Linked DNA regions of Homo sapiens: regions 1 and 2 are each linked to region 3. Evidence: fine-mapped expression QTL. A gene starts in region 3. Each other region holds a variant in brackets. All regions are shown on one strand. Distances are from middle to middle.

The links. PIP is the estimated chance that this variant, and not a neighbour inherited with it, causes the effect.
Region 1: its variant is fine-mapped to the expression of CTSA in whole blood (TOPMed, PIP above 0.99).
Region 2: its variant is fine-mapped to the expression of CTSA in whole blood (TOPMed, PIP 0.97).

Annotation. Positions count from the first base shown.
Region 1 is chr20:45,704,397-45,712,572 of GRCh38, forward strand. WFDC10B (WAP four-disulfide core domain 10B) reads right to left here and starts at 623. Exons shown (of 4, transcript NM_172006.2): 1 at 522-623; 2 at 101-165. WFDC13 (WAP four-disulfide core domain 13) reads left to right here. Exons shown (of 4, transcript NM_172005.2): 2 at 48-198; 3 at 1,467-1,531; 4 at 3,462-4,421. The coding sequence ends at 1,509. MIR3617 (microRNA 3617) reads right to left here and starts at 784; the gene lies at 706-784. The variant T/C (reference allele first, on the strand shown) is at 3,821.
Region 2 is chr20:45,850,007-45,858,182 of GRCh38, forward strand. It overlaps ACOT8 (acyl-CoA thioesterase 8), which reads right to left and starts at 7,386. Exons shown (of 6, transcript NM_005469.4): 1 at 7,182-7,386; 2 at 5,153-5,286. The coding sequence starts at 7,309. It overlaps ZSWIM3 (zinc finger SWIM-type containing 3), which reads left to right and starts at 7,608. Exons shown (of 2, transcript NM_080752.4): 1 at 7,608-7,974. The coding sequence starts at 7,820. RefSeq lists enhancers at 3,660-4,189, 4,190-4,719, 4,720-5,249. The variant GT/G (reference allele first, on the strand shown) is at 4,014.
Region 3 is chr20:45,887,721-45,895,868 of GRCh38, forward strand. It overlaps CTSA (cathepsin A), which reads left to right and starts at 3,615. Exons shown (of 15, transcript NM_000308.4): 1 at 3,615-3,659; 2 at 3,849-4,042; 3 at 4,196-4,307; 4 at 4,553-4,603; 5 at 4,678-4,764; 6 at 5,005-5,160; 7 at 5,500-5,591; 8 at 6,268-6,352; 9 at 6,930-7,021; 10 at 7,103-7,181; 11 at 7,274-7,413. The coding sequence starts at 3,849. NEURL2 (neuralized E3 ubiquitin protein ligase 2) reads right to left here and starts at 3,488. Exons shown (of 2, transcript NM_080749.4): 1 at 2,530-3,488; 2 at 914-1,153. The coding sequence starts at 3,271. The coding sequence ends at 1,038. It also overlaps a transcript of SPATA25 not described here. RefSeq lists enhancers at 2,953-3,662, 3,902-3,951 and a silencer at 3,592-3,861.

The sequences.
Region 1 (8,176 bases), 180 kb before region 3:
CTCCAGCCTGTTGGTGAGGCCCTTCTCTTACTTGTTCTGTGTTCCAGAGTATATCTTGGAACCTCCACCCTGCATATCAGCACCTGAAAACTGTACTCACCTGTGTACAATGCAGGAAGATTGCGAGAAAGGATTTCAGTGCTGTTCCTCCTTCTGTGGGATAGTCTGTTCATCAGAAACATTTCAAAAGCGCAACAGGTAAGAGATATCTCATATCCAGGTCTGATCCTAGAGCTGCTGGTGGGAGCCCAGCAGAAGAGTCCCTTACCAGCAACTGTGCTGGATCTCTCCTTTTTTTTTTTTTTCCTTGGTGGCCATGTTGCCAACATGCCCCTTCTCTTGACCAAGGATAATTTCCATAAAAGTCCTGATTAGAAAAGCCCTCCTCCCCTCCCAATCACCACATCCCATCACCATATCCGTGAATTTCTGACTCTGCCTCTCTGAACACACCCACAAATGCCTTTATCCACAGACCTTCCCCCGACCCAGAATCCACCCTTATCCCAGGGACACTGTACCTGCAGGTGTAACCAAAATCCCAAAGCAAAATTTGTCCTACACTTTTGCTTGCCCTCCTTTCACAAGACACCATCCTTTGGCCACCAGTGTTCTTGGGCTCTGGAGATCCAGCCCAAAGGAAGTTTTGATTAATTGTCCAGACATTAACACTAGCCGCAAGCCTGCTAAATGGAGTGTGCTCCCAGGGCAGAGAAAGGACATAGGGTGCTGATGAGACATATGGTTTCTAATCCCATCTTGCAACTATGTCTTTCTATGACCTTGAGTAAGACAATTCCCTCTTTTTTACTTTCTTTTTCTCATGAGTAAAATAAGTACTCTTGTTTTTTCCTGCTTTGCAAGGCCCATATGAAATTTCAAAAGACTCACAGTGGAAGACTCAACCAATGAGCCCTTTGAGGGAAGCCTGGCAGTCTTGTTCCCTGCTGTATTCCCTACCATGAGCAGAATACCCAGCATGAGATAATGTGCAGAGTGATTAAGCATGGGCTCAAAGCCAAACACCTGGGCTCAAATCCTGGCTTCTTAGCTAAGTGACCTTAAGTGATCTTAGACAAGCTAATTAACCTCTCTCTGGGCATCAACTTCCTCATCCTTAAGACTGGAACAATAATAGTGAGGTTAAAATAGACAATCCATGTAAGCTTTAAAACATTACTTGCCAACATAATTGCTGTGAATTTTGGGGATTAGGCAACCACTTCTCTTTGAAGAGACTAGCCCTTGCAATTAAATTCCACATCTTTCAATGCTCTACATTGGAATGCAGAAGCATAAATATAACTCTTTGGTGTCATTGAGTTTTTTGAGGTTCTGCCTTCCCTATGGCAAGAGAAATGAGCTTCATGGTCTAATATTAATGGTGGAAGTAATTGAAAGAAAAATATATATCTCTAAAAGTAAAACTTCACTAGTTAATATTTGAAAATATTTTTCTTCTACAGAATCAAACACAAGGGCTCAGAAGTCATCATGCCTGCCAACTGAGGCATATTTCCTAGATCATTTTGTAAGTACAGGGATTTGGTCTCGCCTTCCTCATGTGAGATTCCCAGGGATGCTCACTTTCTTCCTGTAGCCTCACCAGGGGCACTACATTCCCACAAGCTCAGAATGGCCTCTCATTACCTGATTGCCTCCTCCTCCATCATTCCCCTCCAAGGGCTATCTTTGCACTCCCTGGGGGAGGCACGGTGCAGTCCAGCATGAATTCTGCAACACAGAGCAATGTAAGGAACCAAGTCATGGCCCAGGGGGAACCCAGGGCACTCAGATCTGAGGCTTTGTCAAGGAACAAGCTCTTCTAGCCTCCGGGTTGACAGCACCCTGGGCAGGGACTCAAGCTGAGCCCTTCACGCTCTGAGACTTTGGTCTGCTCACTGTACCTCTCTGAGACAGTCACCTCCCTCATGTGAAATATGAAGAAAACATCCATGCCTTGGGGTATTGGGAGGACAACACAAGGCCATGTAGATGGAAGAACTTGGTCTCTGCAAAGGTAGAAACTGCCAGCAACTCACTTACAAGGTCACTCATTCAGGTTCCAGTTTTTTCTCTGAAAAAAGAGGGAGTGGGCCGGGTATGGTGACTCACACCTGTAACCCCAGCACTTTCGGAGGCCAAGGTGGACGGATCACGAGGTCAGGAGTTCAAGACCAGCCTGACCAACAGAGTGAAACCCTGTCTCTACTAAAAATACAAAAATTAGTTGGGTGTGATGGTGCACACCTGGAATCCCAGCTACTCAGGAGGCTGAAGCAGGAGAATTGCTTGAACCCAGGAGGCAGAGGTTGCAGTGAGCCAAGAGTGCACCATTGCACTCCAGCCTGGGCGACAGAGTGAGACTCCGTCTCAAAAAAAAAAAAAGAGGGAGTGGGAATCATCTTTATTATTTTACTGATGCTTCAAGAATGGTGAACAAAATGGAGTCCTGTGGAATTCCACCACCAAAAAAATGATAGTATTCATAAGTTGGTGGATTTCGTTTCAGAGTATTTGAAAGAAAAAGTTAGAAGTTTAGGGTCTTCTAATGGGCCTTCTGATGTCTCCAGATGTTCCAAATTAGAATGGTGGTCTTTCAGCTTAGTCCTTTTATTAACCCTGTACAAAGGAGCGTGATAAATAGTAGCAGGTGGAGGCCAGTGGAGCAGTTTAGACGCATGAGCACTTGCCCAGGCTCCGGTGAGCCCACCATGCTGCGGATGAGCTCCCACTCATGCTTCAAGGTTTCTATTAAATTAAACACTCCATAGAAACTTCACCAGTTCACTCCAGACAGAATTAGTCCCTCTCTTTGTCTTTTGTAGTGTCCTATCTTTGGCCTACCATAACCTAGTGACCCCTGATCCAGGGCAGGAAATACTGTTCAGAAAAATCTATAGACTCTTTTACTACCAGAAACTGACCATATGTGGTTCGAGTTGACCTGAGTGAGGCAGGTCTCTTACATACAGGTTGGCTATCACTGTTTTAATAATCTGAGTTTGATCTATCCAATACTGTAGGCACTGGTCACGAGAGGCTATTTAAATGTTAATTCATATGAATTACAATAAAATAAAATATTCAATCAGTTCCTTAGCCTTATTTTCCATTTCAAGTGTTTAATAACCACATGTGGTTAGTAGCTACCATATTACACATTATAAATACAGAACACAGAAAGTTCTAATGGAAAGCATTGCTTTAAGCTACATAAAGCTGATGTCTAAAAAATGATGGCTAATTAAAGGTGATCATGACAGAGGACACCCTCTATGACAGCCTCATGTTAGACTCCAGGAAAAGTTTTTGGGGGCTATTTCTTTAAGGAGTTCCTAAGCATAGCCTGACAACAGACAGTTCAATGACAGTAATTCTCTAGAGACCCAACATGATGTCCAAGGATGTTTAAAGAATCAAGAAGAATAAATGGACTAATTATCTTTCCTTCCCCACAGGCCTCTACGATGTTTTTTCTTGGTCCACCTTTAGGAAGGTATTGAGAAGCAAGAAACTGGAGGCCCAATATCTAACCTGCAAATCGTTTTTGAGTTTGGCAATAAAGGCTAATCTACCATAAAACTCTTGAAGCTTAAGCTTTAGGTCAACACTTGCAAGAGCCCCTTCCAAAGCTCAGCACAGTTTCCTCCTGGGATGAGGAGAGGAATCAGAAACCCCACTTTGGCATAGAGACAAGCAGCACTGTTCCAGTCCAGGGATGCTGTGTGTGCCCTGGTGGTGGTCTTAAGGACCTACCACATCAACATCTGGACAACCCTCACTGATTACCTGCCCTTGGTTGCACTCATCAGGCTAA[T/C]TGATCCCATATTTAACCTCAAGGAGAAATATCAACCAGACACTGCATGGCAACCTCCTTGGGGCCAGCCTTCAAGGCTTCATGGCCATATCATGAACCCAGGACAGGCACAGTGGGGGTGGTGAGGACCTGATAGAGTTGGATCAGTGACTAAGAGGCTGCAATAAGGTGCCATGAAATCAAAATCAAAGGGCTAGAACTCTCCAAGGTCTTGCCCCCGGCATGTAGCACCACCTGAGCCAGAAACTGCAGAGGACATGACAGTGTGGCATTACTGATAAGTTATGGAAATGGAAATAATCTTTCCTAAACTACCAATAATAACTTTAAATTTTTGATCAACCATGCTAGAGCAAAGATTGAATTATCCTTCTGTTCTCTCTACAGAAATGATATAAAAACTATAGTCATAAGAAGAGACAATCAAAAATAATCAGCCATAAAATATTAAAAAGGTATTATAAAGGTATTTAAAATAATAATAATAAAGTGTTATTTTCCTGGGATTCATGATATTTGATATATTCGTAAGCTTTTGTTAAGTTTGTAATTTGTTGCAATTTCTTTTTCATTTCAAATAAATATTCACTTACGTGTCTAATTTTGTATTAGTAGTTCTGCATTATTTTTCTAAAACAAGGTATCCATAATTATACAAGCATCAAGCTCCACAAAGCCTGGGCCTTTCTCTGCTTGCCTCCATTCCTTCCAACTCTGTACCAGTGAGCCTTGTGTTCCTCATTAGGAAAACAGCATAAGCAATTGTTCTTCATTTTCACAAGACTGTACAAAAAGATTAAACAATATAATATGCATAAAAATATGTTGTACGCACTGTGACAGAAATATGAATGGTTATGATTATTGTTAACATTTTGAGGACTTACTGCAAAGGGTGAGATATAAGGAATGGCATTAAGGAAGAAGAAAAATGGATTTTCACCCCTTCATCAGTGAATATAATCTATACACCATGACTTCTCACTTAACCATAGTTGTGCTACTATGGCACATCATCTAAATTCTTCAAAACTTGAATTTTTCATGCTTAAAATAGAGATAACACCACTTACCTTACGTAATTTGTGATACTAAGTTCTTGATTGTAGTCTGGTGGTTGGGAGGCTTAATTAAATAACCAGTAACTCAGCAGTATCAACTTGCTTTGAAGGGAACATGGCTGGACTGGAAAGTACCTGACACACAACCACACAGGACAGGCTGACCCTCCAGGATGAAATCTTGAAGGGATGTTTCAGCCAATCATGAGTTTATTTAGTTTATTAAGAACAAGTGACAGGCATGGGGAATCTTGGAAAAGATGCTCTAATAGATAGGTCCAACTCTTCCCCAGGGGAGTGAATAAAGATGAAAAGCTAAGAGACAAGAATTTGGCCACAATGAAGCCAGAATAAAACTGTTCAAAAAATAACAATGCTTATGGATATCTTGCAAATTCTTGCTGGGAGTTCTCTTCTCAGTCCATCCCAGCAGAGATGGTGAAAGATCAGTAGTTCAGTAGGGGCTATACCAAGTCAATAAGGATACTTGGGAGACACAATGAAAAAAGAGTCACTTTTTCTTGCTGTCACCTGGGAAGAAGATAAATATGAAGACTATGGCCCTTTGGAGAGCACTCTTGTACTCTGTCACTGCCTCCTATAAGTGCTTAGTCAACAATCCAACATAATTTTAGGTTTGCTGGGAAAGGTGGGTTTGGCTGTGTTAGGAATGGAATTTACAATTTTGAAGGTGAAATCTTGTTTGTTCATGGGTTCTGCTTCCCAGCCTTGCAGCCAAGACTCGTATACAACTTTTGAGGACAAAACTTTAATTCATTTCTATATACCCAACATTGAGAATAGTTACTGAAATATAGCAGGAGCTCAATAAGTAAGTACCTTTTAATGAGATGAGAAAGGATAAAATGCTAAAATATTGAGGCAGGGGAATTGCTTGAATCCAGGGGGTGGATGTTGCAGTGAGCCGAGATCATGCTACTTCACTCCAGCCTGGATGAAAGAGTAAAACTTTGTCTCCAAAAGAAAAAAAAAGAAAGAAAGAAAGAAAAAGCACTTGAGAAAAATTCAACATTTTTTTCATAATAAAAGCTCTCAACGAATTAGGTATACAAGCCACGTATCTCTATATAACAAAGGCCATGTATAACAAGCCCATAGCTAACATCATACTCAATGATGAAAAGCTGAAAGCTTTGCCTCTAAGATCAGGAATAAGACAAGGATGCCTACTCTCACCGCTTCTATTCAACAAAATACTTGAAATCCTATCCAGAAAGATTAGGCAAGAAGAACAAATAAAAGGCATCCAACAGGAAATTTTCCAATAGGAAAATTGTCTCTGTTTACAGATAGCATCTTATGTATACAAAACTCTAAAGACTTGATAACAAAAATAACTGTTAGAATTAATAAATTCAATAAAAGTGCAGGATAAAATCATCAATATACAAAAATTAGTTGAATTTCTCTACACTAACTACAAACTATCCATAAAAGAAATCAAGAAAAATAATCCCATTTACAATAGCATCAAAAAGAATAAAATAGGAGTAAATATAACCAAAGAGGTGAAGGATCTGTACACTAAAAACTATAGAATATTGATAAAAGAAAGTATAGATGACACACAAAAAATGAAAAGATATCCCATGTTCATGAGTTGGAGAAATTAATATTGTTAAAATGTTCATAATGCTTAAATTACTCCACAGATTCAATGCAATCTCTAACAAAATTCCAAAGATATTTTCACAGAAATAGAAAAAACAATCCTAAAATTCATGTGAGCCACAAAAGACACTGAATAGCTAAAGAAATTCTGAGCAAAAAGGACAAAGCTGGAAGCATCACACGTCATGATTTTAAACTATATTGCAAACTACAGTAATCCAAACAGTATGGTACTAGCATAAAAACAGACACATATGGCAACGAAACAGAATAGAGAGCCCAGAATTAAACCCTTGCACGTACAGTCAACTAACTTCCAACAAAGGCACCAAGAATATACAATGGGGAAAGGATAATCTCTTCATTAAATGATGTTAGGAAAACTTACACCATACACAAAAATCAATTCAAAATGGACTAAAGACTTAAACATAAGACCTGAAACTGTAAAACTCTTAGAAGAAAACATAGGGACAAAGTTCCATTGGTCTGGACAATGATTTTTTTTTATTTGAAACCAAAAGCACAAGAAACAAAAACACAAATAAGGGAGACCACATTTTCTGCACAGCAAAGGAAACAATCAACAAAATGAAAATGCAACCTATGGAATGGAGAAAATCTTTGTAAAAAATACATTTGATAACAGTTAATATGCAAAATATATAAAGAACTCCTACAACTCAATAACAAAAAATAAAAAATAAAAAAATAGTAAAAGTCCCCAAACAGACATTTTTTCAAAGACATACAAATGGCCAACAAGTCTATGAAAAGATGTTCAACATCATTAATCATTATGAAAATGCAAATCAAAACCACATGAGCTATGACATCACACCTGCCAGGTGCCTATTATCAAAACAAAAGATAAGTGTTGGCAAGGATATGGAGAAAAGGAAACCCTTGCACACCATTAGTGGGAATTCAAAATGGTGCAGCCACTATGCAAAACAGAGTGAATGTTCCTTTTAAAATTAAAAATTGAACTACCATGTGATCCACTAATCCCACTTTTGAATATTTATTCAAAATTACTGAAATCAGGATCTCAAAGAGATATTAACACTTAGCACCTCTATGTTCATTGCAGCACTAGTCACAACAGCCAAGATGTGAAAACAATCTTATGTACGTTGACAGATGAAGACATTTTTTTGAAATGTAGTATATGCATACAATGGAATACTATTCAGCCTTTTAAAAAAAGGAAATTCTGCAATATGTCACAACATAGATGAACCTTGAGGACATTATGCCAAGTGAAAAAAGCCAGTCACAGGAAGATAAATACTTCACGACTCCACTTATATGAAGTATCTAAAATAGTCAAATTTATAGAATCAATAGTGGAACAGTGGTTGCCAGGGCCTGGGTGGAGGTGAAATGGATAATTAGTAATTAACAGGCATAAAGTTTCAGTCAAGCAAAAGAAATAAGCTCTAGGGATCTAGTATACAACACTGTACCTATAGTCAACAAAAACGTATCATACACTTAAAAATATGTTAAAACAGTAGACTTCATGTTAAGTGCTTTTACCACAATAAAATAAAATTTGAAAAAAGAAAGAATAGGGGCTGGGCACAGTGGCTCATGCCTGTAATCCCAGCACTTTGGGAGGCCAAGGCAGGCAGATCATGAGGTCAGGAGTTTGAGACCA
Region 2 (8,176 bases), 38 kb before region 3:
AAGACCAGCCTGGCCAACATGGCAAAACCCTGTCTCTACTAAAAATACAAAAAATTAGCCAGGCCTGGTGGCACACACCTGTAATCCTAGCTACTCGGGAGGCTGCAGCAGGAGAATTGCTTGAAGCTGGGAGGTGGAGGCTATGGCAGGAGAACTGCTTGAACCTGGGAGGTGGAGGCTGCAGTGAGCCGAAATTGCACCACTGCACTCCAGCCTGGGGAACAAGAGTGAAACTCTGTCTCAAAAAAGAGTGGGACATCCTATGTGATTGGTTAGGAGTACATATTTGGCTTTCTCCGGTTGGTCCTAAGTTGGAAGCAGGGGCAAAAATTAGGGCAGCTATCAGTTATTAATCAAGTCCTGGCTTTGGAGGCCAATTGTTACAGTGGTCATTATTTGGCTTGCTGGACTGGTTGGTAAAGATAGTGGTCTGACTTCCTACAAGTCTGACTTGTGGATAGTAGGCTGGCTTCCTGTGCTGGTTGCTGCTATTGTGCGTCAGAGTTCTGTTTTTCTACATGGTCTAGCCATTGTCTGTTTGTATATTCAGCCTCTCCCAGGCAAGGGCCACTGTCAGTCACTTCACCCCTGATGTATATGGAAGCCATTTGGTCCTTCACTGTCAGGTGTCTCTGCTCCAAAGCAGAGTGGAAGAGCCTAGGCAACACAGGGAGACCCTGTTTCTACAAAAAATAAAAAATAAAAATTAGCTGGACATGGTGGCATGTGCCTATAGTCCCAGCTAATCAAGAGGCTGAGGCGGAAGGATCACTTGAGGCCAGGAGATCAAGGCTGCAGTGAGCCATGACTGCGTCACTGTGCTCCAGCCTAGGTGACAGAGCAAGACCTTGTCTCAAAAACAACAAGACCACCACCACCAGAGTAGAAGGCACTGGCCAGGGATAAGGCAGCCAACAACAAGCAGGTGAGGGAAGATTTGGAGAGGAAGAGAACTTCCCTGGTTTCCCTGAAGTTCTCACTTTGTCTGAGTCAGGCTGACCTTGAGGAACCCTGACATCTGGGCCATGAGACATCTTGGGGATGACTTTCAACCTTCAGATGAAAGAAGCAGGTCTAGAGAAGTGTTGCTTCCTTCACTCTGATCCAAATGGGGAGTCAACCAGGCACCAGGGCTCAATCAACAGCAATAAACATCACTGTCTGAGGTCAACTGGCTTGCTCAGCTCTCTGTTATCAGGCACTGCCACCAGCAGCACTTCTATCAGAGTGCGAGCTCCTCAAGGTTAAAGGCATTTGAGAAGGGCTTACCAAGAGTCCAGACACTAGACAAAGTTACTTGTGCAGTCTGCTTTCAGACACTGGGAATGAAGTCTTCCTCCCTACCACCAAACTTGGGGGGAAAAAACAAAAAAAAACCTCTAATCCAATCCTTGGTCTGCAGGTAAGCTAAAGTGCAGATTCCTGAGGAGGATCACAGAAACTTCAGTACTCTGGTCTACCTTTCAGTGTGAATGAGTTCCAGCCCTATTCTTGAAAATTGTTATTGGAACAGAGCAGGTAGGCCCTGAGGCATATTGAAGGGAGTTAATGATTATGGAGTGATGCAGGGTGCCTGACAGCATTGGACAGGAGGGTATGTTTTCTCATGTTGGTCTCACAATAACTATGTAGAGCCACTCTTACCCCCATTGTACAGATGAGGAAACTGTTGCCTTAAAATACAATTTTTTTGTAATAAAGTCATGCTAATTTGTTTACATATTGTCTATAGTTGCTTTCACTGGCAAAACCTAAAATGTTTACTATCTGGCCCTTTCTAGAATGTTTGCTGACCTTGTTCTGAATTCTTCAAGCTCTAAATTTACCTCTGTAGAGAAAAACTAAAAACAAAACAAAAACCCAACTAATTCACATTCTTTCCTGGGCTTTTAGAAAAAGAACTGATTTGATAAATGGCCAAGGACCAACCCTCCCCCTCCCCCATAACATCTTTTATTTTTAAAATGTAATTGAAACATCTCTTTTTTGTTTTGTTTTTTTGAGATGGAGTCTCGATCTGTCGCCCAGGTGGGAGTGCAGTGGCGCAGTTTTAGCTCACTGCGACCTCCAGCCGCCGGGTTCAAGCAATTCTCCTTGCCTCAGCCTCAGCCTCAGCCTCCCGAGTAGCTGGGATCACGGGCTAAGGTCACCACGCCCAGCTAATTTTCCTTTTTTTTTTTAGATGGAGTCTTGCTCTGTCACCCAGGCTGGAGTACAGTAGCACGATCTCAGCTCACTGCAACCTCCACCTCCAGGGTTCAAGCGATTCTCCTGACTCAGCCTCCTGAGTAGCTAGGACTACAGGTGTGCACCACCACACCTGGCTAATTTTTGTGTGTGTTTTTTTTTTTTAGTAGAGATGGAGTTTCGCCACATTGTCCAGGCTGGTCTCGAACTCTTGACCTCAGCCGATCTGCCCGCCTCGGCCTCCCAAAGTCCTGGGATTACAGGCATAAGCCACATGCCCAGCCAAAAAACAGCATTGGTTTTAATATCTGATATAGCTGGCAGAGTCACACCACAAACAGATAAGAGCTCTCCCCTTTTTGCCTTGCAGCCAGGAAGCTCAGAACTAAACCTTGTATGAAACTGCAACAATATGGCTTAGCCAAATTTTTTGACATGATCGCTTCTCCCAAATCCCATTACTACTGGCCTAATGTCCTTTGACTTTTAATATTCCCATAATAACTACCAATTATTTTAGCTATCTTGCAGCCTTTCAAGACACAAGCAAGGGCACAAATAATTATTTTTATTTATTTATTTATTTTTGATGGAGACAAGAGTCTCGCTCTGTCGCCCAGGCTGGAGTACAGTAGCATGATCTCAGCTCACTGCAACCTCCGCCTCCTGAGTTCAAGCAATTCTCCTACCTCAGCCTCCTGAGTAGCTGGGACTACAGGCACATGCCGCCATGCCTGGCTAATTTTTAGTATTTTAGTAGAGACTGGGTTTCACCATGTTGCCCAGGCTGGTCTCGAACTCCTGAGCTCAGGTGATCCGCCCGCCTCGGCTTCCCAAAGTGCTAGGATTACAGGCATGAGCCACCACGCCCGGCCAAATAATTATTTATTTTGAAATGGTGGCTTGGACACAGCTCATTTCACGCTGCTCCTGGATGAAGACTTTCCAAGAAAGAGGATCTTTTCCCCAGAACCTGGGATGGGTACCCTGGCAGCTCTCTCATTGTTTAGAATTATTGCCCAAGAGCGAAGCAAAGAAGCAGGAAAGAGTTTGGCACTCAAAGACACATAAACCAGGTTCAAATCCTGGCTCTGCCTCCTTGGGCACTGTGGGAGCTGGTTCCAAACCTCTTCAGGTCCCAGTTTCCTTAGGTAAGAATGATGGCAGGAATGCCTGCCACCCATGTTTACTTATGAAGACTAAACAAGATAATGCACACAACTATGCTCTGTATCATGCAAATTTTAATTATTCCCATAAGTTAATCATCAAAAACTAATAATATTTATGGAAAACTAGATTATGCCAAGCCCTGCACTAGATACTTTACTGGCAAAGACTCATTGAATTCTTCCATCACAGGATGAAGAGATTCAGAGTTCAAGTAATGCCCCCACCCACACAAAAGAAAACAGCCAGGTATTTCACTAGGCTGGAAGGATTACAATATCAAAAGGCTGGTACTTACAAACAAATTAAAGAAACAAAGCACATATTTACTCCCAACTAGCATAAAGATAAGAACCTGGCTGAGCCCAAGGTAAGTATTCAAATACTTTATAGCAGTGACTGGGGGCCGAGAAGAGGGGGGCCAATCAATACTCCTCAGGGATGAGGAGTAAGAGACACGGGACAGTATGAAAAAGTGTATTTACCATTACAGGGATAACTTTCATATTTACAAAATGAAGGGGGAAACCCCATGGTTTTCTTAATACAAATCACATACTGTAAAGGTCCACAAACTCTTCTCAGCTGGGGATCTACGCAGAACACATGAGGGCATCTGCTCTGGGGGTAACAGGGAAGGAAAGAAAACAGTGAGG[GT/G]TTTTTTTGTTTGTTTTTTAGCATAGGTTTTGCTTTTATTTTCCTTTTATTTATTTTTTTGTAGAGACAAGGTCTCGATTTATTGCCCTGGCTGGTCTTGAATTCCTGGGTTCCAACAATTCTCCGCATTGGCCTCCCAATGTGCGGGGATTATAGGCATGAGCCACCACACATAGGTTTTTTGTTTTTGAGACAGAGTCTCGCTCTGTTGCCCAGGCTGGAGTGCTCGCCCAGGCTGGAGTGCAGTGGCACGATCTTGGCTCACTGCAAGCTCCGCCTTCCGGGTTCACACCATTCTCCTGCCTCAGCCTCCCGAGTAGCTGGGACTACAGGCACCCACCACCACACCTGGCTAATTTTTTTATATTTTTAGTAGAGACGGGGTTTCACCGTGTTAGCTAGGATGGTCCCGATCTCCTGACCTCGTGATCCGCCCGCCTTGGCCTCCAAAGTGCTGGGATTACAGGCGTGAGCCACCGCGCCCGGCCTCACACATAGGTTTTAAGTTACATTATCTGACCCCAGAGCTGTAAGAAGCTGTAGAGATCATCCCACTAAAATACCCTTGGTCCCACCCTTCTCCATTTTACAGCTGAAGTAAACCAAACTGTAGGGCGGGGAGGTAACCTCACAAGGCTGCATGGTAAATTATGGACAAAACTGAAGCTAGGCCCTACATCTTTGGTTTGTTTTTATTGACCCTATGCTCAGTTGACAAAAGAAGCCTTAGATCCCTTGACTCTCAGGCTGGTGCTCTCTTCTCCAACCCAAGCTGCCCTACCTCCACACCTCTAGCACAGAGGTCACAGCACACTGAGAACCTAGCACAGCGCTCCGCACCAGGAGCTATGTTAAGAATGGAAGAACAAAAGCCCACAAGGAGCAGTTAAGCAACAAAGTCTTGTGTCATTATCAGCCAGACATCAGGTACCCAGTGAGTCCCAGCAGGTGTGAGGTCCAAGGCTCATTGTTAGCCCCAGACCTCGTTCCACCCTAGACACCTCTTAGGGTGGTAGTGTCCGCCACCCCTCCCCTTGTCTTCCAGTCTCCCTCTCTTCCCTTTTGACCTCAGCCCCCAAGGCCAGAAATGGCTGCTGGGCCACCAGGGTTGGGTTGGGGCAGGAAGTGGGGGGTTTACCTGCCCGAACAAAGTAGCAGTGCAGGGAGTGCACGTGGACGTCTTCACTCACAGACTTGGCTGCAGCCACCAGGGCCTGGCCCACGATCTGACCACCAAACAGCCTCTTGGCCGGTACCCAGTAATGCCTTCCTCTGTAGGGAGAGGGGGAAAGAGGGAAAGACTTGGGAACTGGGCCAAATTCTACTACCCTCACTAAGACTCTAATGCATGATCTCTTCACCATATTGGGGTTTAAGATCCTTTTGAGAATATGGTAAAAGCCATAGGTCCTTTCCCCAGGCAAATATCCTTATGCATAAAAATCCTCTGGGCCGGGCGCAGTGGCTTACATCTGTAATCCCAGCACTTTGGGAGGCCGAGGCAGGTGGATCATTTGAGATCAGGAGTTCAAGAGCAGCCTGGCCAACATGGTGAAACTCCATCTCTACTAAAAATACAAAAATTAGCTGGACGTGGTGGCATGCACCTGTAATCCCAGCTACTCAGGAGGCTGAGGCAGGAGAATCACTTGAACCCAGGAGGCAGAGGTTGAGGTGAGCCAAGATCGCACCACTGCACTCCAGCCTGGGTGACAGAGCAAGACTCCATCTCAAAAAATAAAATTAAATAAATGTATAAATGAATAAATAACAAGAGCCCTCAGACATCAAGTCTAACTCCTTCAGTGTACAGATGAGAAAACTGCAGCTTGGCCCCAGAGATGAAAATGCTTGCCCAGAATGTAGGCCCATTGGAAGCTGAATAATTATGTCTCTAGCCTCCCACGTCCCAGCTGTTTGGCATTTTCTGTAACAATGAGTTATGAACAGCCCTCCATGACCTGGCAGGTGGCTCTCGCCTGTAATCAATCCCAGCACTTTGGGAAGCCGAGGTGGGAGGATCGCCTGAGCCCATGAGTTCAAAACCAGCCTGGGCTCCAAAGTGGGGCCTCATGTCTACTAAAAATAAAAAAGTTAGCTGGATGTGGTGGCAAGCGCTTATGGTCCCAGCTAAACGGGAGACTGAGGCAGAAGGGTCACTTGGGCCCAGGAGGTCGAGGTTGCAGTGAGCCATGTTCGTGCCACTGCACTCCAGCCTGGACAACAGGGCCAGATCTTGTCTTCAAAAACAAAAATCAAATAGCCCTCCAAGAAGTTATTTACAATTCCTTAAGTGGAAGGAAGGGAGCTCAAAGTAAGATAACTTCCAGTAAAGCCAGGAGAAGCCTTGGAGGTCAAAGCTGTTAGAAGCCTTGCTGCAGGGGGCTGGGCGCGGTGGCTCATGCCTGTAATCCTAGCACTTTGGCAGAGGTGGGCAGATTACAAGGTCAGGAGTTCGAGACCAGCCTGGCCAACACGGTGAAACCCCGTCTCTACTAAAAGAAGTTAAAAAATTAGCTGGGCTGTGGCGCGCCTGTATGTCCCAGCTAATCAGGAGGCTGAGGCAGGAGAAATGCTTGAACCCGGGAGGCGGAGGTTGCACTGAGCCGAGATCGCACCACTGCACTCCAGCCTGGGCAACAGAGCAAGACTCCGCCTCAAAGAAAGAAAGAAACCCTTGCTGCAGTCAAGAACTTCAGCGATGCTGGGAAAGAAAAAAACATGCTTAGGCCTCAGAATAAGTAATGAGAAACCAGACCCACCAAATGGTACTGGGGGCGGGATATTGTGAGAAGAAAAGGATACTGAAGACACAAGGAGCTGCGGCGTCGGTTTTAAGGCTGATCCATCAGCTGTGTGCCCTTGGGCAAATCACTGCCCTCTCTGGGCTAGCTCCCCCGTGAAGGCTTAGGGCAGGCTGCCGAGCAGGGTCTCTCAGGTCACCACTATATTTGCTCAGCTGTGCAGACCTCGCAGCGCGGAGAGGAAGGGAGGAAGCCAGAGCAGAGAGGACAGCTCTGTTGGGGGCGAGTTCTCTCCTAATCGTGGCAGAGGGTGCATCCCACGCAGAGCCATACTAGTCCCGGAGCCAGGGGCCCCGGGCGGCGGCAGTCAAGATCAAGTTTCTGCCCTAAAGGAGGGGATGCTGGGCAGGAGCTGCCGGCTACCTGAAGAGATCCTCGTCCAGCGGCTCGAGGTTGAGCACGGTCGTGACCAAGACGCTACGGAGGTCCCCAGGGGGATCGCCGCGGTCGCCACAGCCCTGCCCATCTTCTGGGGCCTGCGGGGACGACATCTAGTTCAATGCTGCAGGCCCTGCACACCCGCTCCGCGGAAGACGCGGAGACATACACAGAACCTGACTCTTCCGGCAGATTGCCCTAGTAACCGGAAGTCTCCTGCAGACCCCGGGAAGGAGGAATCTAGGTTATGATTGGTCAGGACTCCTGTCAGTCCGCTGGTGGCTGTGGCCCTCTTTCTCTAGCAATTGGAGAAAATGAATGCCAATCTGCGAATCCTGTGTGTGACTGGATATGTCGCTGAGGAGGCGGAACCTCGGGACTGGATAATATGGACTGAGTGTCATTTCCCCTGTCAGATAGCAAATACACCCCCTTCCTCTTGTAACCCGGTCAGGCCTAGGGTTCCTCCCTGAGTTCCAGAATAGGCCACCCAGTTGGGGCGGACCCTTAAGGCATTCTGGGCCCACGCCTGCCTATAAACCCTCATAGTGTGACCTTTGACCCCTGGTGTGATCTTGGGCCCGGGCTGGGACCAGCCCCTAGTGTGGGTTGTGGGGGCGGCCATGGAGCTGGGCAGCTGCTTCAAGACCTATGAGGACTTCAAGGAGTGCTTCAGCGCCTACAAAAGGGAGAACAGGTGCTCCTTCATTCTCAGGGACTGCGTCTCCGTCCGCTTCCACAACCTCAACCATGGCACCTCCATCCGCGAAGACATCCTGTAAGGGCGGGCGGGGCGGGGCGGGCCAAGAGGGTGGGGAGGAGGCTGGACCTCCGGAGGGCTGCCTGGAGGAGGAGGGGTGCATAGGCACGCATTGGGCTGCGTGGCCATTCATTCAACAGGCACTCATTGAGCACCTGCTGTGTGCCTTGTGAAGAGAGCTAAGCCTCCACGGCCATTGGTTTTTGACCACCCACTCCAC
Region 3 (8,148 bases):
TTCATTCTAGAACCTGGACATGACAATAGGATGAGGTTAAAAGAGCACCAGACCAGGAGCTGGGTGTTCTAGGTTCTTGCCCTAACCTTGAACGAGTCACCCAGATAGTTTTGTTCCTTGATATCCTTATCTGTAAAGTGTGTCTGATGACTGCCCACTACCTCATTAGGAGTTTTGAGGATGAAATGAGATCATTTGTATGGAAGCAGATGACCAGAGATGGAAACACAGGAGCCAAGTGCTTCGTGCCTTGTAGAGTAAGACTTCGGGTCAGACCCAGTATTGGTATTTTTCTTTTTCTTTTTTTGAGACAGAGTCTCACTTTGTCGCCATGACTGGAAGGCTGGAGTGCAGGAGCAAGACCTCAGCTCACTGCAACCTCTGCCTCCTGGGTTCATGCAATTCTCCTGCCTCAGCCTCCCGAGTAGCTGGGACTACAGGAACCTGCCACCACACCTGGCTAACTTTTGTATTTTTAGTAGAGACAGGGTTTCACCATGTTGGCCAGGCTGGTCTCAAACTCCTGACCTCAAGTGATCTGCCCACCTCGGCCTCCCAAAGTGCTGGGATTACAGGCCAGGTATTGGTATTTTTCAAAATTCCTCAAGTGATTATAATATATGACAAAGTTGGAACCTTTTTTCTAGGGACATACTTCTCAACCCTGGCTGTACATGAGAATCTCTTGAGAAGCTTTTACAAAACACAATGTCTAGGCCTAATTTCCCAACAAATCAAATACGAATCCCTAGGGATGGGATGTGGGACACCAGCACTCTTTACATATCCTAAGATGACTCTAACAAGCAGCCAGCCTAGGGACCCCTGCTCTTTTGCTCCGACCTGCTGACCTGCAGTGATTCTAAACGAAGTGACTCTCATAGGCTGTAGGGGCAAGGAGACCTTCCAGTGATCAAGATGTCAGCATCGGCTGTTTATTTCTGGTCTTGGCTGGCAGCAATGTGGCCAACTTCGGACCAGCCAGCCACAGGTCTGGGGCTCCAGGATGCAGCTGTGCTCTGGTGCACTGTGGGTCTTCACTCATACTTGCAGAAATCCTTAAGTTCTTTGGGCAGGTGGAGCCCATCAATGGCCAGCCGGTGCACCATGCTCCTTTGTATCACTAGGCGGCACAGAGTCTGCAGGGATGGCACTGTGGGAAGAAGACTGTGAAAGGCAAACTGAACTGGAGGGTGGGTCTGAGGCCAAGATCCAGAAGGTCTAGGTCATGGTCCCCACTTTGTCATTAAATGTGGGCAAGTCCTTACTGCTCTCTGGGCCCAGCCTGCTTCATGGGGCTGAGAGAAGCACCTCTTCCTGAGAGCTGCCACAAAGCTGCAGCCCTGTTTATATCATAACACTTAGCACAATCCCTTCCCCATTCACTTAGCAGCTTCTGGGGGCAGGGGTAGTGTCTGATTTGCCTGTGCAACTGAAGCCTCCAGCACAGGCCTGGCACAAAGAGGGTTCTGGTGCATTGAGTTCATGAAATGTGATGAGAGGTATAACTGCAATGCTTACCAGGGCTATAATGAATCATACTCAGCATTAAGAAGCTCTCAGTCTGGGGTTTGTTATGCCTCGAAGCCAATAGCCAATATGCCCAAGTCTATGAGCATGTTTCTTTCTTTTCTTTCTTTTTTTTTTTTTATTTAAAGAGAGAGGGTCTTGCTCTGTCACCCAGGCTGAAGTGCAGTGCTCAGTGAACTGCAGCCTTCAATTCTTGGGCTCAAGCGATCCTCCTGCCTTAGCCTCCCAAATAGCTGGGACTACAGGCATGCACCACCATGCCCAGATAATTATTTAATTTTTTGTACAGATGGGGTCTCACTTTGTTGCCCAGGCTTGAGCTAGCTAGCTTGCTTGCTTGCTTGCTTTCTCTCTCTTCCTCTCTCTCTCTCTTTCTTTTTTTTTTCAGAGTCTTGCTCTGTTGCCTAGGCTGGAGTGCACTGGTGAGATCTCGGCTCATTGCAACCTCCACCTCTCGGGTTCAAGTGACTCTCCTGCCTCAGCCTTCTGAATAGCTGGGATTATTGGCACATGCCACCACACCCAGCTACTTTTTGTATTTTTAGTAGAGACAGGCTTTCACCATGTTGGCCAGGCTGGTCTCGAACTCCTGGCCTCAAGTGATCTGCCTGCCTCCCCCTCCCAAAGTGCTGGGATTACAGGTGTGAGCCACTGTGCCCGGCCAAGCATGTTTCTAAGAAAAGGGCAAACAATTCTCAAAGAGGCCCCTAATATCTAAAATTGGTTTAGAATCCCTGCCCTAGGTGAATACAGGAAACACTATCAAAACTAAAAGGGAACTTGTAGGGCATCTTAATCAATCAACCAAGATAGGTACCAAGGCCCAAAACCATGTAGAGGCTTGTGCAAGATCACAAGCAGAGGTGCAATTTGAAGCTAGATTCTCCCACTCTTAAACTAGTGCCGGACAGACGAAGGCCTAGCACATGGGCTACGGAGCCCTAGTAGATTCCAGTCCCCACACTGAGCCAGGAGGGGTCGCTGCCCAGGGATACCTACAGCCATACTCGAGCTGGACAAGGCGCACGCTCTTTGTGGAAGCAAACACGTCCACCACCGCGTAGAGGGGCTGCGCAGCTGGCAGTCCCCGGGCGCTCGGGCCCATGTCCTCGCCGTTGATGATGATGTGCATGTCGGCCGTGCCATCGGGGCGCGGGCAAAAGAGGACACCCAGGCGGCTACGGCGCGCGGTCGGAGGCAGCACGTTCAGCTCATAGAGCTGGTCCAAGAGATGGCTGTAGAGCCCTGGCCGGCTGCGGCCCACCAGGCGGTCCCGGGGAATGCGAAACTGCTCAATGCGCAGATATGGTTCCACGAGGAGGGTTGGAGGTCGGCTGGGGGCCGCTGCCTCCGCCTCCGGGCGGCCCTCCCGGGGCACGCGGTTGTGGTGGCGCGTGATGGCGAAGACCCAGGTGTGGCCCAGGTTGACCAGATCGGGCAGAGAAAACTCGGGAACGGGGGCCAGACTGGCGGGGTCCAGCGCGGTCAGACCGAGACGCAGATGTCCGCACCAGCCCAGCTCTTTCTCCTCGATCTCGACCAGGAAGACCTGGCCCGGGGCCAGCGGCTCGCGGCTGAAGCACACGCCGTGGGCGAAGCTCTCCACGCGTGTGGCCCGCGTCCCAGAGGGGTCCACGCGGATGTTGGCACCGTGCACCCGATGGAAGCGGGTGGGAGGGGGCTCCGGGCGCTCGAGTCCCCAGAGTGCACCCGAATCCACGGGCTCGGAGGCAGCAGCCATCTCTCGGCCATAGGGCAGGCCAGCTGGCGCCGGGGGCTATTTTGGGCGGCGGGCAATGATGGTGACCGCAAGGCGACCTTGTAAGGCATTTCCCCCCTGACTCCCTTCCCCGAGCCTCTGCCCGGGGGTCCTAGCGCCGCTTTCTCAGCCATCCCGCCTACAACTTAGCCGTCCACAACAGGATCATCTGATCGCGTGCGCCCGGGCTACGATCTGCGAGGCCCGCGGACCTTGACCCGGCATTGACCGCCACCGCCCCCCAGGTCCGTAGGGACCAAAGAAGGGGCGGGAGGAAGACTGTCACGTGGCGCCGGAGTTCACGTGACTCGTACACATGACTTCCAGTCCCCGGGCGCCTCCTGGAGAGCAAGGACGCGGGGGAGCAGAGGTGAGCTGGCACCGGAGGCTGGAGGGGATCCCCGAGCCCGGGATCGGTGCGCGGCAGAGGAGGCTCGCGGGTGGGAGCTGGCGCTGGGGCCGGGGCTTCCCTCGCGGAGGCGCCGCCAGCAACTCCCCGGGGGCTGCTGCACGGAAGCGCTGAGGAGCGAGTCAACAGCCCCTCTGCTGCCTCCCGTAGATGATCCGAGCCGCGCCGCCGCCGCTGTTCCTGCTGCTGCTGCTGCTGCTGCTGCTAGTGTCCTGGGCGTCCCGAGGCGAGGCAGCCCCCGACCAGGACGAGATCCAGCGCCTCCCCGGGCTGGCCAAGCAGCCGTCTTTCCGCCAGTACTCCGGCTACCTCAAAGGCTCCGGCTCCAAGCACCTCCACTACTGGTCTGCCGCCCTGCCTTCTGGGCGGGATTGGGAGAAGAGATGACGGATGAGGGATGGGGGGTAGTTCTGCAGACCCCTGAGGATGCCTGGGAGCCGGGAGGGCTGGAAAGGGCCCCTCCAACTGCGCCAACCCTGCCCTGACCCCCCTCCCAGGTTTGTGGAGTCCCAGAAGGATCCCGAGAACAGCCCTGTGGTGCTTTGGCTCAATGGGGGTCCCGGCTGCAGCTCACTAGATGGGCTCCTCACAGAGCATGGCCCCTTCCTGGTGAGTGGACAGCAGGGGGAAAGCACAGTTCCCAAAGTAAAAGGCTGGGGAAAGCGAGAGAGGGGCTTTGTGATTTTCCAAAAAGTTTCCTTCCTTCTAAGCCTCGGGATTTTCCTCTATGCCATTGGCTTTGCTGCCTGTACCTCTCAGAGGTTTTACCCACATGTAAAGTGCCTCTCATGGTGGCCCTTTCCCTCCACCCAGCTGGCCCTTGGGACTTACTCAGCCATCTCTTTCCTCCTCAGGTCCAGCCAGATGGTGTCACCCTGGAGTACAACCCCTATTCTTGGAATCTGGTATAGCTGGAGCTGTGGGTGTGTCTGGGCACTTGGATGGGGTGGCATTTAGCTAATTTTTCCCTCCCCTCTAGATTGCCAATGTGTTATACCTGGAGTCCCCAGCTGGGGTGGGCTTCTCCTACTCCGATGACAAGTTTTATGCAACTAATGACACTGAGGTGAGTCTGGTGCCTGCCCATCTGCCCCAGGCTCCCCGGTCCTCCATCCATGGCATGATGCTGGGAGAGAGAGCATGGCCTTGGAGTCTACTTTTCGCTCTGTCATATGCTATTGTGGTATGGTGGCCAGTCACTTCCTCTTGCACAAATAGGGTGGGTTAATGTCATTATCTCTGAAGTTCTTTCCAGTTCAAATACCAAAGCTTCCTGATTCCCTCTGTCTTGCTCTGCCATCCCCAGGTCGCCCAGAGCAATTTTGAGGCCCTTCAAGATTTCTTCCGCCTCTTTCCGGAGTACAAGAACAACAAACTTTTCCTGACCGGGGAGAGCTATGCTGGCATCTACATCCCCACCCTGGCCGTGCTGGTCATGCAGGATCCCAGCATGAACCTTCAGGTGCAGGGTAGCTGCAGGAGGGAAGGGAGGTAGCTTGAGGCTGTGGCCTTACAGTTAGCAAGGTCAGACTGACTGGTCAATGTCCCCATCCAACCCAGCTTCCTGCATAACCTCCCCACCACCGGCTGCCCTAGGTCTGTCTGTGTGCCTCCCACACAGGAAACTCACCTGTCAGGCTGCCAGCTCTGTGTTTTGCATTGAGTGGCCTCTCATACCCACCGGCCTACATAAACCACCCTGGGTTTCAGCTTCCGGATTGCTGAAGGTCTGGGTGGTAGGGTGAGGGAGGCTCTTCCTTTTTGCCCTCCACATGAGCTGAGCACCCTGGGTGTTTCACAGGGGCTGGCTGTGGGCAATGGACTCTCCTCCTATGAGCAGAATGACAACTCCCTGGTCTACTTTGCCTACTACCATGGCCTTCTGGGGAACAGGTATGGGATAGGGCAGTTGGGCAATCTCTGGGGTGAGGCAGGTCACATGATCTCAGGTCTGTCCTCCAGGCACATGATATGACAGGCCCAGCCCAGGTTTATGAGCAGCAGGTGGGTTGCAGAAAGAACCTAGTGCTGAAAGGCCAAAGAATAGAGATCAGTTTTTCTTTCTTTCTTTTTTTTTTTTTTGAGACAGATTCTTACTTTGTCACCCAGGCTGGAGTGCAGTGGCACGATCTTAGCTCACTGCAACCTCCACCTCCCAGGTTCAAGCAATTCTCATGCCTCAGACTCCCAGGCAGCTGGGACTACAGGCGCGTACCACCACACCTGCCTAATTTTTTGTATTTTTAGTAGAGATGGGGTTTTGCTGTGTTGGCCAGGCTGGACTTGAACTCCTGGCCTCAAATGATCTTCCCAAAGTGCTGGGATTACAGGCATGAGCTACAGCGCCCAGCCAGAAATCAGATTTTAAAGGAACTAAGGAGGCCTGTCTGTATGACCCTGGGGCACCTCTTTGGGAGCTAGCTTAGATGACATACAGACCACACCCTGTGATATCTTTCCCAGTCTCCTAGGGTCAGGGAGGTTGGTGGGAGGTGGGGGGTATGCTCGCCTCCTCTGCCTTCCTCTTCCCACCAGCAGCTGATGCGCTTTTCACTCTCATCTCCTACAGGCTTTGGTCTTCTCTCCAGACCCACTGCTGCTCTCAAAACAAGTGTAACTTCTATGACAACAAAGACCTGGAATGCGTGACCAATGTGAGGTTCTGCCATCACTTTGCATGAGCTCTCCCATCCCTAATCCTGAGAACAGGACCACATTCCCTCCTTGGGGACTCCTTGTTCTCCGTCCCTCATTGCTTTCTTGCACCTTTAAGCAATTTAGTGTTCTCTGGGACATGTGTCTAAGTGTGTATTCCCACCACCACCTCCTATGGTGGCAAATCCCATAACCTCCGTGAGGAGAAAGGACTTCTTCACATTTATCAAACACCTGCAACGTGGCAGGCACTGTGCTGAACTGTGTCTATGTAGATTATTTAAGCTTCAAGATTCCCCCTCAAATGAGATCATACTACCCACATTTTCCAGATAAGGAAACTGAGGGCTATGAATTTTGAAATCACTGTCTGAAGTCACAGTGTTGGGAGGCAGTGATGCTAGGATTTGGACCCAGGTCTGGGAAGATTCCTGCCACTGAGCCTCAGTTTCCCTACCTGTGAAAAAAAGTGGGTGAAGAGGTGAAATCCAAGAGCAGTAAATCTTGGGACAACTTGGTGGGGTCGTGGAGAGGCTGGGGATCTGTAAAGCATGGTGGCTTGGTGTATCATTGCAGCTTCAGGAAGTGGCCCGCATCGTGGGCAACTCTGGCCTCAACATCTACAATCTCTATGCCCCGTGTGCTGGAGGGGTGCCCAGCCATTTTAGGTAGGTGCTGCTGGGTGCCCCTGGAGCCAACCCCAGCCCCATCTGGAGGCTCCACACCCATTCCCCCACCTCACATTGCAGGTATGAGAAGGACACTGTTGTGGTCCAGGATTTGGGCAACATCTTCACTCGCCTGCCACTCAAGCGGATGTGGCATCAGGTGTGCGAGGGCGTGGGCTTCCTCCTGGTGAGGTGGGGGCAGGGGGAGGGGCAGGGAAGCAGAGGCCCTGACCCACTGTCTGTGCCTTCCAGGCACTGCTGCGCTCAGGGGATAAAGTGCGCATGGACCCCCCCTGCACCAACACAACAGCTGCTTCCACCTACCTCAACAACCCGTACGTGCGGAAGGCCCTCAACATCCCGGAGCAGCTGCCACAATGGGACATGTGCAAGTGAGGTTCCGTGGCCACCTGTGACTTGGGGTGGTGGGTTGCTGGGGCTTGTGGGCATCGGCAGGTTTCTCAGGGATCTTCTGTGTAGAGTTTCTCAATGAGATGAGCTGTAGAGGATGTTTAACATCCATCCCTGACCCCTCAGTGGATTGAGAGTCAGCCAATTCATTCTTTTATCTTTTTTAAATTTAAAATTTTTTTGTTTGAGACAAGGTCTCACTCTGTCACCTAGGCTGGAGTGCAGTGGTGTGATCATAGCTCACTGCAGCCTCAAACTCATGGGCTCAAGCAATCCTCCCACCTCCCCAGTAGCTGGGACTACAGACGCACCACCACCCCCAACAAGTTTTTGTATTTTTTGTACAGATGGTGTTTTACCACATTGCTCAGGCTGGTTTTGAACTCTGGGGCTCAAGTGATCTGCCCATTTCAGCCTCCCAAAGTACTGGGATTACAGGCATGAGCCACCCCGCCCAGCCCCATTTCATTACGTAGCCACATTGGTTGTTGTTTCACAGTTCACTACAGCCTCAACCTCCTAGGCTCAAGCGATCCTCCCACCTTAGTCTACTGAGTAGCTGGGTCTACAGGCACATGCCACCATTCCTGGCTAATTTTTAAAAAATTTTTTTGTAGAGACAGGGTCTCACTATGTTGTCCAGGTTGGTCTCAAACTCTTGGTCTCAAGCAATCCTCCCTCCTTGGCCTCCCAAAGTGCTGGGATTACAGGCGAGG